Linked DNA regions of Homo sapiens: region 2 is linked to region 1. The links come from fine-mapping of genetic effects on gene expression. Tissue or cell type: cerebellar hemisphere. Region 1 holds a variant in brackets; the other region holds the start of a gene. All regions are shown on one strand. Distances are between the middles of the regions.

Region 1 (8,109 bases):
AGTTTCTGAAAGGAAAGTCCATGTTTCTTTGAAGTTTATAAAAACACAATTGTAACAATGAGTGAAGTATCTCTGTGGAACCTGCTAAAATAATACGCAGCATTGTAAATGTAATAATTTGAAGTCAAAGTCCCCCTTCTTGACTTACAGGTTTACCAAATTAACCTGCGAAATTAACATCCTTCTTGCAAAGACAAAGAAACTTCCAAGAATGGACTGAAATGTCATGTGTCATCTCCAGCATAGCCTCAGCTCTGAGACATGCTGGGACTTCAGTGGAGGCTGCTGGGTGGGACGAAGTAGTCAAAAAATGTATGCTTCTGGAGTTAGGGTAGATAAAGGGAGTGTAGGACGAGCTCTAGTCCAAATTGCTGTCCCGAGTGTGTGATAAACAGAGCTCTGGTGTGGGGTGTCCATGCACAAGTCTGCACTGCTGAGTGGGGCATGGCAGGAGTCTCTGCAGAGGCAGTGGTCAGGAGGCTGGCTCCTGGGGACCTCCCCCAACAAGGTGAAGCTGCATCATAGCCAGAGGATAAAGGGGTAGGAAACAAGAGTGTCCTGGCAGTGGTGGAGGGGGTGACAGGATGGGTCCTTGCATCATTCCAGTGGACTGGGGCAGGGACTGGACTAAGACTGCAGGTTCATGGCCCTGAGTTCCTCTGGAAGTCTGTGGCAATCATGGATGACCAGTGAAGAGCATCTGAGCCACTGGTCATTCTGTGCAAATGGTAGACGTCACTGAGTGATCAGTGGCAGGTAGGTATTTCACAAAGAACTTGTGGAAGAAAGTGGAGCACCAGTGGGTCCATGCCCAGAAATCAGAATACTCGCCACAAAATATCTAGAGCCATCAGGATGGGAGAAGAATGGATGTGGAGGGAGCGGCAGGCTCCCTTGGCTGAGAAGATACCACCTTTGAGGGTGGTGGGGACCAGCACTTCATGTTCCTGTGCTCATCTCGGAAAGTTGTGAATGGATCTTAGAGGACCCAAGACTTCTTTCTGCTCTAAACTTCAGTGATTCCATGATTTTATGCAGATTTAAGACCAGCTAGGCCACCCTCAGGCTGCATTTCCTCCAGTGCAGAACTAAACCAGCCCCTACTTTGGATGGAACACATAGCTCTCTCTCTAGATACGGGTTCTGCAGGTTTCTGGCTGAAAATCGTTCCTCAATTTTCAATCAGCTGTGGCTGATTCTGGAACTCTGAAAGGTTCCAGACTTGCTGTCTAGGATGAAAGACCTTATTCTGTAGCACTTTTTCCATAGAAGCAATGACCTCATTTATATTCACTGCTGACCCAGCCAGCATTTAAGGTGCAGAATCTGCCCCTTCAGTATGGCAAGTCCTGATTCCTCCAGGGCCAGCCCCAGGGCTTCTGCAAGCACACACAGTGACTTTGTACAAACAAGCCAAATGGATCCTCATGAGGCAGAAGAATTACGAAAAAGTGCCTCCTCTAGGTAGGGGAATGATAAAACAACGCTCCCTCTGAGTGGACCTTGCTCCTGGCTGACACAACTCCTGTGCCAGGATGCAAGGCTTGGCAAGTGAAGGCCAAAATGAAAGTTAGTCTCCATCAATGCCTTCCTGGCCTGGTTTCTTTGTGTAGGGCACAGTCTGTAAAACTCTGCCAGGTCCTGTTTGCTGCTGCCTAGAACCAAACAGCCTCACACCTTGCTCTTACAGGGCCTGTGCCCACTTAGGACAAGTGGGATTCAAGTCGAGTGGCCAGGAAGTCTGAAGGGAGTTGAGGAGTAAGAAGGCATGAGGAACAACCTCCTTCATTAGACCTGTGCTCCTGTCCTGACAGACTTCTTTGAACTTCTTGCCACTTGCTGATTAAGTGACTGAGGGGACTCAGGTGAGCTGGAGGACACCCCCGTCTTTCTCCAACAGGTGAAACAAGGTGGTTCTTTTCTGTAAGACAAATGTGGGTAATAAACAGAAAAAAGGCCAGCAAACAGATCAAGTTCCATAAAAACAAAAGCAATCAGTGCACCCTCTATGACGTAGGTTCACAGAAATGACAGACCAAGTGTGTGAGACACGTCCTGTGCAGGGACACGTGTGACCTTCCGAGCTGTGGGGGAAGGTGCAGCTCAGCGCAAACCGTACTCAAGATGAGTTTTATTTCCCTTCTGGTGTATCTCCAGAGCATGCTGGCAAGTGAGTGAGTCCACTGTTTCTTGCTTCTCGGCATCAGTGACATCATCACTTAATAAGTTAGGGAATCACAACCACATTTCAAAGAATCATTCAGTTTTCTCATTAAGATTCTATAGGATTTTTTTTTTCCACAGCAACAGTCTTGCCAAAATAATGTTAAAAATAGACCTGGTAATACTTTTCACATTTGTAGGCAGTCATGAATGTTTAACAGTGTTTATGTCCAGCAGATGCACATAACTTAAGAATTAGGCATGAGATTTTACACAGTAATACAGAGTACATATATTGTCAAAAGGATTTTTTTTTTTAAATAAAGCAAATACCAAGCCTGGGGAAGAAAAACCTGTTCCCACTTCATCTTCTTGTAGGAAAGTGTTTAATGCATAAAAAATTGGGAGGAAAAGGCATATGTAAAATGTTTGTGAAAAAAGTTTTCAACAGTGATTAAATTTGGATATTCTGACTCACTTAAGTGCATATGGTAAATTCTCAAAATTCAAGGGTCTGAATTCTGGCTCCCGAAGTAGAGAATTATTTTGGAGACAGGTAGCGTCCTATGCTTGTCTGAGTCTGCATGGCTTGGGAAAGGGACACATAGGTTTGGGGCGAGCTGAGAGGTGGTTAAGGTCAGAGGTCCCTCTGCTGAGAAAATGCACCGAGTCTGACTGCCTGGAATTTCTCAGTGAGATAAGCTCTACAGGTCACTGGCCTACAGAAAATGAGATGCTACCTTAAAAGAGGTAAATGAAGTAAAATGTAATTATAATGATTTTAAAACAGAAGTTCTACACATTAATAACTTTATTTGGGGGACTGTCCCTAGTGAGTCCCAATTAAATCACTGGCTCCCAAAAAAACTGGCCTAGATGGCCTTTAAAGAATCTTTTTACAGCTGGGCCTACTTGACATTTTGGAAATGTAAACGTGCCTCCATGCATTTGGAGGATGGCTACATGGATGTTTCCTGAGTTCCCAGCTCTCCTTTTTTATTAATAGTTGTAACTGATCAACAGACGATACAGAATTGATGGCTGTATAAATATAGCTCTTAAATATAGTCATCGTAACTTTCTGATTAGCTTTGGCTGGAACTTTTTTAACTTCTAGCCGTACATCTACAAATGGAAGTTTTCTTGCTTTGGGGGTAATCACATAGATGGAGATTAACTCTCTTTTTCTCCCAGGCTCTAAAAATTATTTTGACCAAAATGTTTAAGTCAGGGGTTTCATGTAGACACAGCTTACATGAGTCATTAAGAATTTTATTGGTTAAAGTAGGCATATTTTTTTCCTAGTAGACATAATGACATAACAGTAATAAAAATGTAATATTCAAGTAATTGGTGTAATGTAATTACAGTTTGGTCATAAAGTAAGATTAGAAGTCTGAGATGGCTGTTTTGTGGGTGTGCACTTTAGCGTCTGAATGTAGTCTTCGAGGTGCCTGCC[C/T]GGTCTCCCTGGAATGCTAGTGCAGTTCATCACATAACCAGGTGGCTGGGCGCCCAGCTGAGCCAGCATTATCTGTGAGTCCTGTTTACCCAGTCTGCCCTGTCTGGACGTTGGTGTCCTGCCTGCTTCAGATACCTAACCATCACAGGAACTGAAAACAGTGTTTCTGGTTTTATATAGACAACAAAAGGGGGAAATAAAGGCCAGGGTCCTCACTAGGCAAGGGACAGACGGAGTTCCAGTGCCATCCTAGAATGGCCACCTCTTTGCCCACATGATGTTGTAGCTCCCCATCTCCCTTAAATTGCAGTGCTTGGAGCAGAGAGCTCCCATATGCCTCTGATGTGCTACAGTGTCAGCCTGTTCTGGCTTTTGGAGGGAAGAACAATTTCCAGATTGAGGCTGAACAAAAGGAGCTGTCTTAGGCATTTGACCAAAATATATTTTATCAAAGGATTTGCCATCATTGGAGATACTCTTTCAACTATTATAAATGAATTTCTCCCTGTTTGCATTTCTTATTTAGTGGCATGGCCTGCAGAAACACAAAATTTAAGCAAGAGTACTTATCTATTTTTGAACACAAACATAACATTTTAATTAACAGTACTTACAATAAATAATTTAAAGAACATCTGATTTCTTTTTTACTATTTTTTCCTTTTTAATTAATCAGTAATTTGTGGGGAGACAATCTGAGACTACATAAACCACTTCTTATCAGTCTTCCTCTACCATGGATGATCTTTTAATGCTACTATTCCTTCTTATTTATTAGTTGGCATTCTTCTGCAAAGAAGACTTTTCACTTTCTCCTCTGTTTACTTATTTATACTGCATGGACTCATGAATATTTATTCGATGGGTGACAAACTAGTACTATCATTTATTTTGATGCTCAAATTGTCCCAGATTTGGCCAGTAAGAGCCTCTTCCAGCTCCATTTTTGACCTCTCCCCATGGTTCTTTGACCAGTTCCTTATTTTCTTATGCAATAAAATATTCAAGGCTCATTTTTCCAGGCATCTTTCCCTGCCCTGGTTCTGGGATCAGGCATTTCTCCAAGGAACCCTGAATACCAGTGGGGAATGATATTTAGAAACTAAGATCTGGGCACTAGGTGTGAAAGATCATCACTTTTTAAATGTGTAAAATTTATTTGGAAAAATTTAGGGTGCTTATAAAGAGCTAAGCATGTGCCACAGGTGAAGGCTGCCTTTGGATCCTGAAAGGGTTGGAATTCTAAGAGAAATCACCCCCCGCCCTCACCGGCCCTTGCCAAATAATGTAAATATGTCACGTAGTATGCCAATTACAGTTTCTGCAAATTGATAAGATCTTTAGGCTTTTCTCCTTCTAAGCAAATACTGTTGTCTAAACCTATTTCAAAAGAACATTAGTATCACTCCTAACTGACAGCTCTTGATGTCTGCTAACTCACAGTTCAGTCATTCATCAACGGCGCAGAGTGATTCACAAACTTAATTTCTTGCCAATATCAGTGACTTTAAACATCCATTGTCTCCGAACCCCCCTTTATGAATATAAATCACACACCTACAAAGGCCTGTCATGAATGCAGCGGGCCACATGCAGTATGTCTGTGCCTCATCATTCCTTCTGGCATGTCACCTTAGTAAACAATGTATAGAGTCTCATTCTAACCCTTGAGTCTGTGGTCTTGTTTTCTACAATGGTGGCTGCTGAGCTGAGGCCCCAAGGAAGGTGAGAAGCCAGCCACACTGAGCCAAAGGGCTGGCAACAGTGACTGGAGCAAGGCTGGACATACAGGATTCCCTGTCTTTAACTCCTTTAAGTAAAGTCAAGGGAAAGCAGAGTTTGGTATCCGACTGATGCAGACTGTTGGCTTTTACTTGGCATGTACTTTCTTACTGCTTGAGAAATGTTATTTTTTCCTTAAACTTCTTTCTCATTAATCTTGTGTTAAGAGTGGTCTAACCCTGTTAGTTTGGTAGGCAGCTTCTGTTCCAATTAGCATATATTTCCATAAGTGTTGAGTGGGGAAGGGAAGGAAAACGCAGAATTTCTCAACTATTGACCTTGAGGGACTTGTAGGAAGGTGTGTCTGACATGCTTGTAATACAACTGACTCTGAAAAAGCTCTAGTAAATGGTTAAGTTATGGTTGGCTCTGATGATTTATGCTGAACAGAATAAACTATGATGGAGACATAAAATATTTCTAAGCTTACACTTTAGTCACTCAATATACATGAAACTCAATCTTCTTACTTAAAAAACAGATAGAGCACTGAGAATCTCCTAAGGAAATCAAGTTGTTTATTAGTCTTGTGTTCACCCATGTCATGCATACGAAGATTGAAGAGCTGAAAACGCTTTGATATTCTCCACTGTAAGGCACTGTGTGATACCCCGCTTAAAACTATTCCTACCATTCCACCAAGGGACTTTCCTTTCCACTGACAAGTTGAAGGAGGAATTCAGAGACAGTGCTTCCGTAGCCAAATTGTTTCATTGTTCAAGTATATTGATAGGGTGGTTGCCTAAGCAGAAAATGCAGAATTAAACGAAGGAAGCTTGTTTTGAGAGCAGGTCTGTCACCATCTATGGTACATATGACAAGGAAGTAAACAGGAAGTGCTGAATTGGCTTGGTTTACTCCTACAGGGACAGAGAGAAATAAAATCAGTGTTTACCAAATGGAAAAGCACAAAGTTGGTACAGAGAGAAATGTTATTTTCAGGCTTCTAAAAAGGCATTACAAATAACACAAAGTTTCAAACCTATAATTAAAAACTATTTTTAAAAAGTTTTGATTAGGTTCCCTTCAAAAATAGGCATTTTAGGCTGAAATAAATTCTTAAAGTTTTGACTCCCACTTATGCTGGTTTTTCCATAATCCACACTCCATAAATGCCCCTCTTAAATAACAGATTTCAGGAGTAAAAAATATGTCTTAAAGTCATCTAGTAGAACTTCAATGCTCCCACTTAATAGATGAGGAATCCAAGACCCCAAAGTTAAAGCAATTTCTCAAACACCACACAGCCATTAAGGGCAGGGAGAATTTAGGATCCAAGTTACTCATCAGGCAAGAGTTACGAATAGATATAATTTCTTAGTGCCAGATCCACGGAGGAAACAAACCTTGTGGTGAAGGGGCCAAATGTATTGTTGGTGTAGTTTTTTCCAGAAGCCAAGACTGGGCCTGTGGGTCCAAACCGAGTATACTTCTGTCCTTCAGCAGCTCTGGACAAGAGCTAAATACCATCTAAATGCCTGACTCCAGAATCATGAGAAATAAAAAAAATAATGTTGCCTTAAAGCCACTAACGTTTGGGGTGGGTTTGTTACACAGCAAAAGATAACTGAAACAGAAATAGGCAGGATCACCCCATGAGGCAAGGAAGCACATCAGCTGAGTTGTTTACTAAGGGCAAAGGCGATATGGACTGGCTAACAGAAGACGGAAGTTATAAATACTAGCAAGGACCATTGGACCAGTTACAGAAATGATGACAGTAGTGGTTGTAAGTATTTCTTTCTTACTTTAATATGAATACAGCATTTTTTTGGTATTAATTTTCTTTACTCCCCCACTTCCATTCCCTATCTTTAATAGAAGATGTGTTAATAGTGGCTAGCCATATAGCTCAGTATTTAAGTTACAGGATATTAAAGAGGGAGTGTGACTCAGAGAAAAGAGGAAAAAATATCACCCCAAAATGGATGTGTCATATAGGACTTAATAGCCTTTTACTAAAAAAAAAAAAAAATGCACTTTTGGCGGGGCATGGTGGCTCACGCCTGTAATCCCAGCACTTTGGGAGGCTGAGGCAGGTGGATCACGAGGTCAGGAGATTGAGACCATCCTGGCCAACATGGTGAAACTCCGTCTCCATTAAAAATACAAAAATTAGCCAGGCCTGGTGGCACATGCCTGTAGTCCCAGCTACTTGGGAGGCTGAGGCAAGAGAATCACTTGAACCTGGGAGGCGGAGGCTGCAGTGAGCTGAGATCGTGCCACTGCACTCCAGCCTGGATGACAGAGCGAGAGACTCCATCTCAAAAAAAAAAAAAATTTATATTAGAACAGTTTTACATTTACTGAATTGTGAAGACAGCACAAAGTTCCCATATACCCAACACCTACTTTCCTCTATTATTAGTAATTTACATTATGATACATTTGTCACAATTAATGAACAAATATTGGTATGTTATTTCCTAAAGCCCATACTTGATTCGGATTTCCTTAGTTTTTATCCATTGTCCCGTTTCTGCTCCAGAATTGCATCCAGGATGCCACATTACATTTATGTCATGTCTCCTTAGGCTCCTCTTGGCTATGATAGTTTCTCAGGCTTTCCTTGACAGTTTTGAGGAGTGTGGTCAGGTATTCTGTAATGCCTCTCAAGTGACATTTGTATGATGCTCAAGATTAGAAGGGGTTATGGGTTATTGGGAAGATGACCACAAAGGTATTTATACCCTTTTTGGAGGACA
Region 2 (8,109 bases), 570 kb after region 1:
AATTTTTGTATTTTTAGTAGACAGAGTTTCACCATGTTGGCCAGGCTGGTCTCAAACTCCTGACCTCAGGCGATCCACCTGCCTCGGCCTCCCAAAGTGCTGGGATTACAGTTGTGAGTCACCGCACCCGGCCCAGCTAATTTTTGTTTTAAATTTTTTCTAGAGACCAGGTCTCACTATATTGCCCATCACTCTTAGGCTCAAGCAACCCGGGCCTGTCTTGGCCTCCCAAAGTGCTGGTATTACAGGCATGAAGTCACAGAGCCGGCCACGATTTTCATGTTCATTATCTTATTTAACCTTCACTACCCATTAACTATGGGCCAGGTATTTTCAGAGGGAGAACTACAGTACAAAAAAGCCTCACAGACCAATTCTAGAAAGTAAGAGCCTCATTAGTATAACCTATTAGGTGGGAATATGTTTGGATAAATGAGATACAACGGAAGGAACACATCAAGTGCCCAAGAAAATGTTGGTTCTCCCTTAGCAGTAGTATGGGGTTGTTTTCCGTAGAAAATATATTGTGACCAGATCAAAAAAGCACCATTACTGTGACTTAAAATATTATTTGTGTGTGTGTGTGTGTGGTTTTTGAGACAGAGTATTGCTCTGTCGCCCAGGCTGGAGTGCAGTGCACGATCTCGGCTCACTGCAACCTCCGCCTCCCGGGTTCAAGCGATTCTCCTGCCTCAGCCTCCTGAGTACCTGGGACTACAGGCATGCACCACCATGCCCGGCTAATTTTTTTGTAATTTTAGTAGAGACGGGGTTTCGCCATGTTGGCCAGTCTGGTCTCCAACTCCTGACATCAAGTGATCCACCCATCTCAGCCTCCCAAAGTGCTGGGATTACAGGTGTGAGCCACCACACCCAGCCTGTGACTTACAATATTATTTGTAAAAGAGAACTGTCTTCAGTAATAGTGCCTATTATACACTATCCATGCTGTTACACAAAATTTACACAACAATTTTTGCAGGTCACTCTTTAGTGGAGGCTGAAGGTAGACAAGATGAGACAAAACCAATTCAATATAAAAATGTTTGTAAAGTAAGACGATAATTTTTAAATGTAATTCTCATTTGATGCCACCAACAGTCCTATGAGAAAGCGGGATGAGGATGGGTACTAATTCCATTTTACTGATAAGGAAATTGAGGCTCTGATATTAATAAGTTAAATACCTTAACTGAAATGACAAAAGAATGTGCCAGAAAAGGGCAAAAGCTAGGTTTACAGAATTGGGTCTTAGTGCTCTGTTCACCAACCCACATAACATCTCAGAACATTATTATCACTTCTAGATTATCCAATAAACTTAAGGCTACAGCAGCTAACAGTTACTGAACTGCACACAACCCATCACATGAGTTATTTAAATTAACCTCTTATGAACCTAGAAGCAGATGCCATTACCATCTTCATTTTATAAATGAGGAACCCAGTATTCTTAGGAAGATTAAATAATTTGTCCCAAATCACATGGTTAGGAAGCAGCAGAGCGAGAACTCAAATCAAGTGTTAGAGCCTCAATAAAATATTTTACCCACTTCAGTATAAACTTAATATAATAATGCATATGGCTGAATTATTTTTCATTAAGTAAACTGTAAGCAAAACCCTTCTTTAACATTCTAATACATAATCAGATTTCTGACGGATTTCACTATTCAACCTCACCATAAAATAAAATCAGTGTTATTTCAACACAAATACTCAATCACCTGATTTGACTGACATAGACTACCATGCAGTCACCCCCACCAAAAGATGATTTTCTTCCAGAGGGAACCAAAACTCAAGCTGCTAAAGGTTTATATTCAAAGCAAAATTTTAAAATTATCAGTGGCTTAAATGGGAAAGTCACTTGCTGGCCTTATTCCAGGTATCTTATTTATTATTTAGACACAAAAACAGTAATTTTGTCACTGTTTTAAAGTATATTTCTGGCCGGGCACGGTGGCTCACACCTGTAATCCCAGAACTTTGGGAGGCTGAGGCGGGTGGAGCACTTGAGATCAAGAGTTCAAAACCAGCCTGGCCAACATAGTGAAACTCTGTCTCTACAAAAAATACAAAAATTAGCCAGGCATGCTGGCATGTGCCTGTAATCCCAGCTACTCGGGAGGCTGAGGCAGGAGAATCGCTTGAACCCAGGAGGGGGAGGTTGCAGTGAGCTGAGATCGCACCATTGTACTCCAATCTGGGCAACAAGAGTGAAACTCCATCTCAAAAATAATAAAGTATTTCTGATATTGCAATGTGGTTAATCATCCTAAAACTATATATTACAAGTCCCAACAAGGCTAACAGTAGGGTGACATTATGATGTGGTCCCAATTCGAACATTTTGATAGTGAAAGGGGTTCTATTAAATAAAATAATTGTGCTGGAACAATCAGGCTTTATACTACGACTGTCTCAGAAAAATTAAGATACTATAGTCACCCATAAAAGCACCCCATTCTGATTTGTATATTATGAGCTATTCTCTCCATCTGATTTAACTCGTGAGCTTTAAGTTATTGCTCCAGATCTAACAATTATCTTCAGCCTTAAGACCAAGAGCATCATTTTTTTTTTTAAAGAGACAAGGTCTCCCTCTGCAGCCCAGGCTGGAAGCCTGGCCTGACCATGATTCACTGCAGCCTTGAACTCCTAGGTTCAAGAGATCCTCTGGCCTCAGCCTCCCAAAGTGCTGGGATTACAAGCATGAGCCAACGTGCCTGGCCCAAGGGCACCATTTTACAGACATCAGGCCAAGGTTAAGGGTGCTACCGCTACCTATAAAGGTTTTTTATTTGTTCTTTTAGTTTTATTTTCAAATTTGACTTTATATACACTTGCTTTAAAAAAAAAAAACAGATGCACATATTTCAAGTAAAGTAATTTTGTGAAACATCTATTACCTAATTTCACTTATCTCTCCAAAAGATTTGGATAACCATAAAACTAGTTCTAAAATGTCCTAATGCTCAAGAGTTACAATTTTTCAAATCGCTTTATTACACAAAAGGTTAAAAAAGAAAAAAACTTGAATAAGAGCTGGAAACTTCTCACTGAAAAACCAACCAAAGTGGTAAAAGATAGCAGAAACCGACAATCACAAAATAGTACAATAATGTTTAAAGAAAACTCCAGTTAATACTGTCATAGCTCTCTGAATCTGGCATTAGCTGTACAACCTAGGAGACAACGTTTTGCTTTAATTTGTCAAGATGTAAATAAGTACTAACAGACCCATGGTCTGAACTGCAGTATTTGAATGAAAGGCATTATTTGAATATAATTACAATTCCCTATGGCAATAAATGTTCCAAAGAGCTGGCTTATCTGATTTAAAACTCAACCATATCAAGACTCGGAAGGACTCTCAAAATCTAAATTGTAGCCCTGTGCTGTCCAATGCAGTAGCTACCACTAGCCACATGTGGGTATTTAAACGTAAATCAATTTATTAATTTATGAATAAAATTAAAAATTAAGTTCCTCAGTGACACTTATCACATTTCAAGTGCTGAAGAGCCACTGTGCCTAGGCTACCACTAGTGCCTAAAGGCACAGATTATGGAACATCTCCATCAAGGCAGAAACTGCTAGTGAAAAGTGCAGCCCTAGACTTAGGCATACTTCGCTCCAACGTCCCGAATATCCTGAGATAAGAAACTTTCCATAGCACAATGAAGAGCATTCCATTCTTGCAAAGTACTCTCACGAACTGTTTCTCATAGGCAAATTCAGCCTCTTTGAAACATTCACCAGAAATTCCCCAAGTTTTGTCCTTCAAGTAAATCTTTGCAGGGCGAATTTAATTCCTCTTCCAGAGTCTGCCCTTCACATATACTAAGACCCCAGGTCCTCTCCTTCCAAATACATACATACATATATACACATACATATACTTATATACACACATATGTATATACATATATATACACACACATTTCTTTCTACCGAAATAACTTAACATTTCTATTAGCCTCTTGGAGAAATGCTAATTTATCCACGTGTACAGTAATACTACGTCCAGGATCGTCTGAGTGTCAAATATTACATATCACTGTCTTCATAACTTCACTCTCACGTGTGAGACCAAGTGTCCTGATTCTCTGAGAAAATAAGGTCACAGTCATTCTGAACTCCTAAAACGTGGAGAGCAAAAGCAGAGCTAATATGTACTGAGCAGCACCTGGCGCTGTTCTAAGCGTTTAACGTGTATTTTCTCATATAATCCTCACAATTCTGAAATAGGCTATAAGATCGCCATTTTACAGACCAAAACAAGGCAAAGACAAGCTAAATAATTTCCCCAGGGGTCACAGACGTGAGCTCACCCCACAGAGAACACAGCGGATCTTTTCCTCTTTCTGGATGCTACACTCCCACTAACTACCTAACTCTTCTCTCGCCGTGCCATAAAGCAACAATTTCCCTCTTTAATGATTCCTCCGGCAGCCCCCACACTACCTAGACGACCCGCGCACCCCGCTTCTCAGCACAGCCCAGCCCCCCTCACCCCACGCCCACCCGCCAAAAGGGAGGAGTCGAGAGGCAACTCCACGCTCGGCAGCGGAACCAGGGCGCTGCGCCCGGCCAGCGCCTCCCACAGCCGCCCTCCCTTCAACACTCCGGCGTAGACCACGAAGACCCAGGCAGCCGCCCTCGAGCCGGGGCCAGGGCGTGGCCGGCGCGGGGGCCCAGCGACGCTGGGATCTCCGCTCTGCGTCCCTCCCGGCTCTCTGACGTCTCCCCCGCCCGAATCCCCGCACCGCCCCCCGCAAGCCCTACAACCTCTGCTTTAAGAACCCTTGGAGGCACTGCTGCGCTTCCCGCGAGGAGAATGTGGGGGTGGAGATGGTGCGGTTTCTGCTGCTGCGGCCCGGGACACGCTTGGAAAGGGGCGGGGTGGGGGACTGAGAGTGTGGAGTGTAGAAAGGGAAAAGGTGACTCGGCTGTGTGACGGGGCGATGGGGGGGGTACAAGATGGCGTGAGCCCGACTCTCGGTGGGGCGGGGGTTGCGGAGACTGAGGAGTAAGCGATACGGACGCCCCCCGCACTGGCAGTGCGGGCGCATGCGCGCTTGGCCAGGTGGCGCGCGCTCTCCCAGCCCGAGCGAGCTACTTCCGCCACGCTCGCCGGGGGCGGGGCGTTGTGCGCGGCCTTCAGGGCCCGGCTTGGGCAGCGCTGAGCCACGCGGCGGCGTTTAGAGCTGGGGACGCTGGGAGCGGAGTGGGGACGAGCTGAGATCGGTCAGGGTGTACAGGGTGCAGGCTTGAATTCTTTAGGAATTGGGCCCGAGAGGGCTAGGATTTTTGAAGGATTGGGTGACCGGCACTGGAAGTTGATTTTCAACTCCGAGGAAGAGATTCACCGTTCTAAGCTTCTTTCCAGGAATTGGAGTGAACGGGATCTTAATGGGATTGCGCGTTTACAATGGTGAAGGGAAACGGAGGGGTCTGAACGCTCCCCGCAGGGCCGCAGTACAGGCGTGTGGATGTGGAACCCTTTCTGGGACGGCGAAACCAGCTCTTACGCCGCTTCCGCGCGCCATCACTCCCTACCCTGACCTCGCACAGAATCTGTTTCATTAATCTGCTATTAATGTTTTTTCCCCAACTCATGTTACTAGACGCAGGCGTTTAACTACCATGTTTTGTTATTGAAAACTTTTTCTACTTGAAGGCTTTTTTTTTTTTTTGGACGATTCTGTGTTTAGATTTTGGCCTGTTCCTCATTTTAAAATCTTGCACCCCCAGTATTGTACTGTACATTCTGTCCTGCCACATTTAATTGATATAGATGTAGTTCTTTAAATAATACAGTAGTCGTAAGACAATGCTTTCAGTCTTTCACTCTTTATATTATATGAAGTCTTATTTATATTTAACATTCTTATTGCCTGCTTAGAGAAGAAAACTGGTTATCCATGCTCACCTTCACACCTGTGTTGTCAAATACTATAAAATACTGTATTTTATAGGGATTCAAGTATTAACCCTCACCAAGTCTTTTTAAGCATCACTGCTTCAGTTATTTTCTTGCCTATAGATACTGTGAGTTCTGAAATCCCTTCCTTCTATTTGCTTAAATTGTTTAAAATAGCAACTTATTTGGTTATTTCCTCTGTGGATTGTAGTTGAGTCTGCTAGTGTTGTGTTTGATTCTCTTTAATCTCCCCAACGCTTCAATATTTGCCAAATACCTAAAATTCCAAAAGAATAGATATATTTAGGATGTGAGAGCTCAGCTTGATGTGTAAATCAGGGATCAATTCATTGCTGAGCAAAGTGTGCAGTATAAGGGAAAGTAACAGAGTGAGTATGGTGATAACTTCTTACATGGGAAGACTGGTTGAAAGCTCTTTTGAGTACATTACCAAGAAATTAGTTAACAGAAGATTAAGAGAAAAATTAATGTTCACATCTAAAGAAACATAAAAGTAGATCATTTCAATTAAAATTATGTTCAGTTAATGTTATCATAGAAGTTCCTGCACTGGAGTTTCACCTGCATCAGATGAGTACCTGTTTGATCCAGTTTATCAGGATAGAATCCAGATCATCTTATTCTAGGATACTGGTGTCCAGCCTGCATAAAATCACACACAGGCCAGGCGCGGTGGCTCACGCCTGTAATCCCAGCACTTTGGGAGGCCGAGACGGGCAGATCACAAGGTCAGGAGATCGAAACCATCCTGGCCAACATGATGAAACCCCGTCTCTACTAAAAATACAAAAAAGTATCCGGGCGTGGTGGCACGTGCCTGTAGTCCCAGCTACTCGGGAGGCTGAGGCAGGAGAATCGCTTGAACCTGGGAGGCGGAGGTTGCAGGGAGCCGAGATCACGCCGCTGCTCTCCAGCCTGGCAACAGAACTAGACTCCGTCAAAAAAAGAAAAAAAAAAATCACGCACAACAAAAGTTAATGAGAGTGACACATGGAGAAGGGAAACTGAGTTAAGGCATTGATACAGGAAGTTTAAAAATTTATTCTTAGGAAACTGAATTGGGCTGTTGGCAGAGATCTGATTTTTAAAGTCACATGAGTTAACCAGGTTCCTACCTCCTGGAATTTCTTAAAATCCATTTTTGAAAATCTGATTTAGCCATAATTTTGCTCATAGTTTGAGACCATTGCTATATACAAAGGGCCAAAAATATTTTTGCATTACATTCATATCAAATATCCTAAACTATCAATGGTACTAGGGTATCTTAATTATAACAAAGCTAAAACAGCGAAGCTGTTGCTGAAGTTAAGGCTTTGATGACTACCACCTCTCAGAAAAACAAGTGATTTTCCAAGGCATGTGGGGAAAACACATCAGGAGACCAAGTTAATTTATCACTCCACAAAAATGTCTCCATGACCTGGACAAAATTGTTAAAGAAAAATGAAGCATTGTTAGCGTAGACTTTAACGTTCCTCTGGCATGTAATATTCACGTAGACTCACTAGTGCAAAGAGAAAGTGCATGTATCTAAGTAAAAGTGCCCATGGGCATCTTAAAATGATTAGGTAGTAAGCCCACATTCTCAAAAGAGCAGCAGAAGTCATGGCTAATATGGAACCATCTCTCTGATTCCATGGAAGTGGTTTCTTTTTATTATTATTTTTTGAGACAGAGTCTCGCTCTGTCACCCAGGCTGGAGTGCAGTGGCCCGATCTCGGCTCACTGCAACTTCCTCTTCCCCAATTCAAGCGATTCTTCTGCCTCAGCCTCCTGAGTAGCTGGGATTACAGGCGTGTGCCACCACGCCCGGGTAATTTTTGTATTTTTAATAGAGACGGGGTTTCACCATGTTGGTCAGGCTGGTCTCAAACTCCTGACCTTGTGATCTGCCTGCCTCGGCCTCCCAAAGTGCTGGGATTACAGGTGTCAGCCACCGCACCCGGCCAGAAGTGGTTTCTTCTCATGTGGATGCTACAGTGACAGTTCAGGTGACTTGGAAATTCTTTGTTGTTTGAGATTCATAACTCTTACTTGCTAGGATGTTTGTGGGGACTTTTTATTTTCTATTTATCAATTATTTCATCCTTTGCTATATTTGCCTTCTATTTTTAATGCTTAAGTTGTCACCATGGAAATAAACTGGGTAGATTGCA

The links. PIP is the estimated chance that this variant, and not a neighbour inherited with it, causes the effect.
Region 2: SUPT3H starts here. The variant in region 1 is fine-mapped to the expression of SUPT3H in cerebellar hemisphere (GTEx, PIP 0.97). The same link has a PIP of 0.9 or more in caudate.

What each region holds. Positions count from the first base shown.
Region 1 is chr6:44,803,238-44,811,346 of GRCh38, forward strand. All of the region lies in intron 2 of LOC101929770 (a long non-coding RNA gene), which reads left to right. It also overlaps a transcript of SUPT3H not described here. Among named protein-coding and RNA genes, the nearest start is that of MIR4642, 370 kb to the left of the region's middle. The variant C/T (reference allele first, on the strand shown) is at 3,623.
Region 2 is chr6:45,372,974-45,381,082 of GRCh38, forward strand. It overlaps SUPT3H (SPT3 homolog, SAGA and STAGA complex component), which reads right to left and starts at 4,961. Exons shown (of 11, transcript NM_003599.4): 1 at 4,795-4,961. The region is part of intron 2 of RUNX2 (RUNX family transcription factor 2); the gene reads left to right. RefSeq lists silencers at 4,603-4,882, 5,203-5,252 and an enhancer at 4,893-5,436.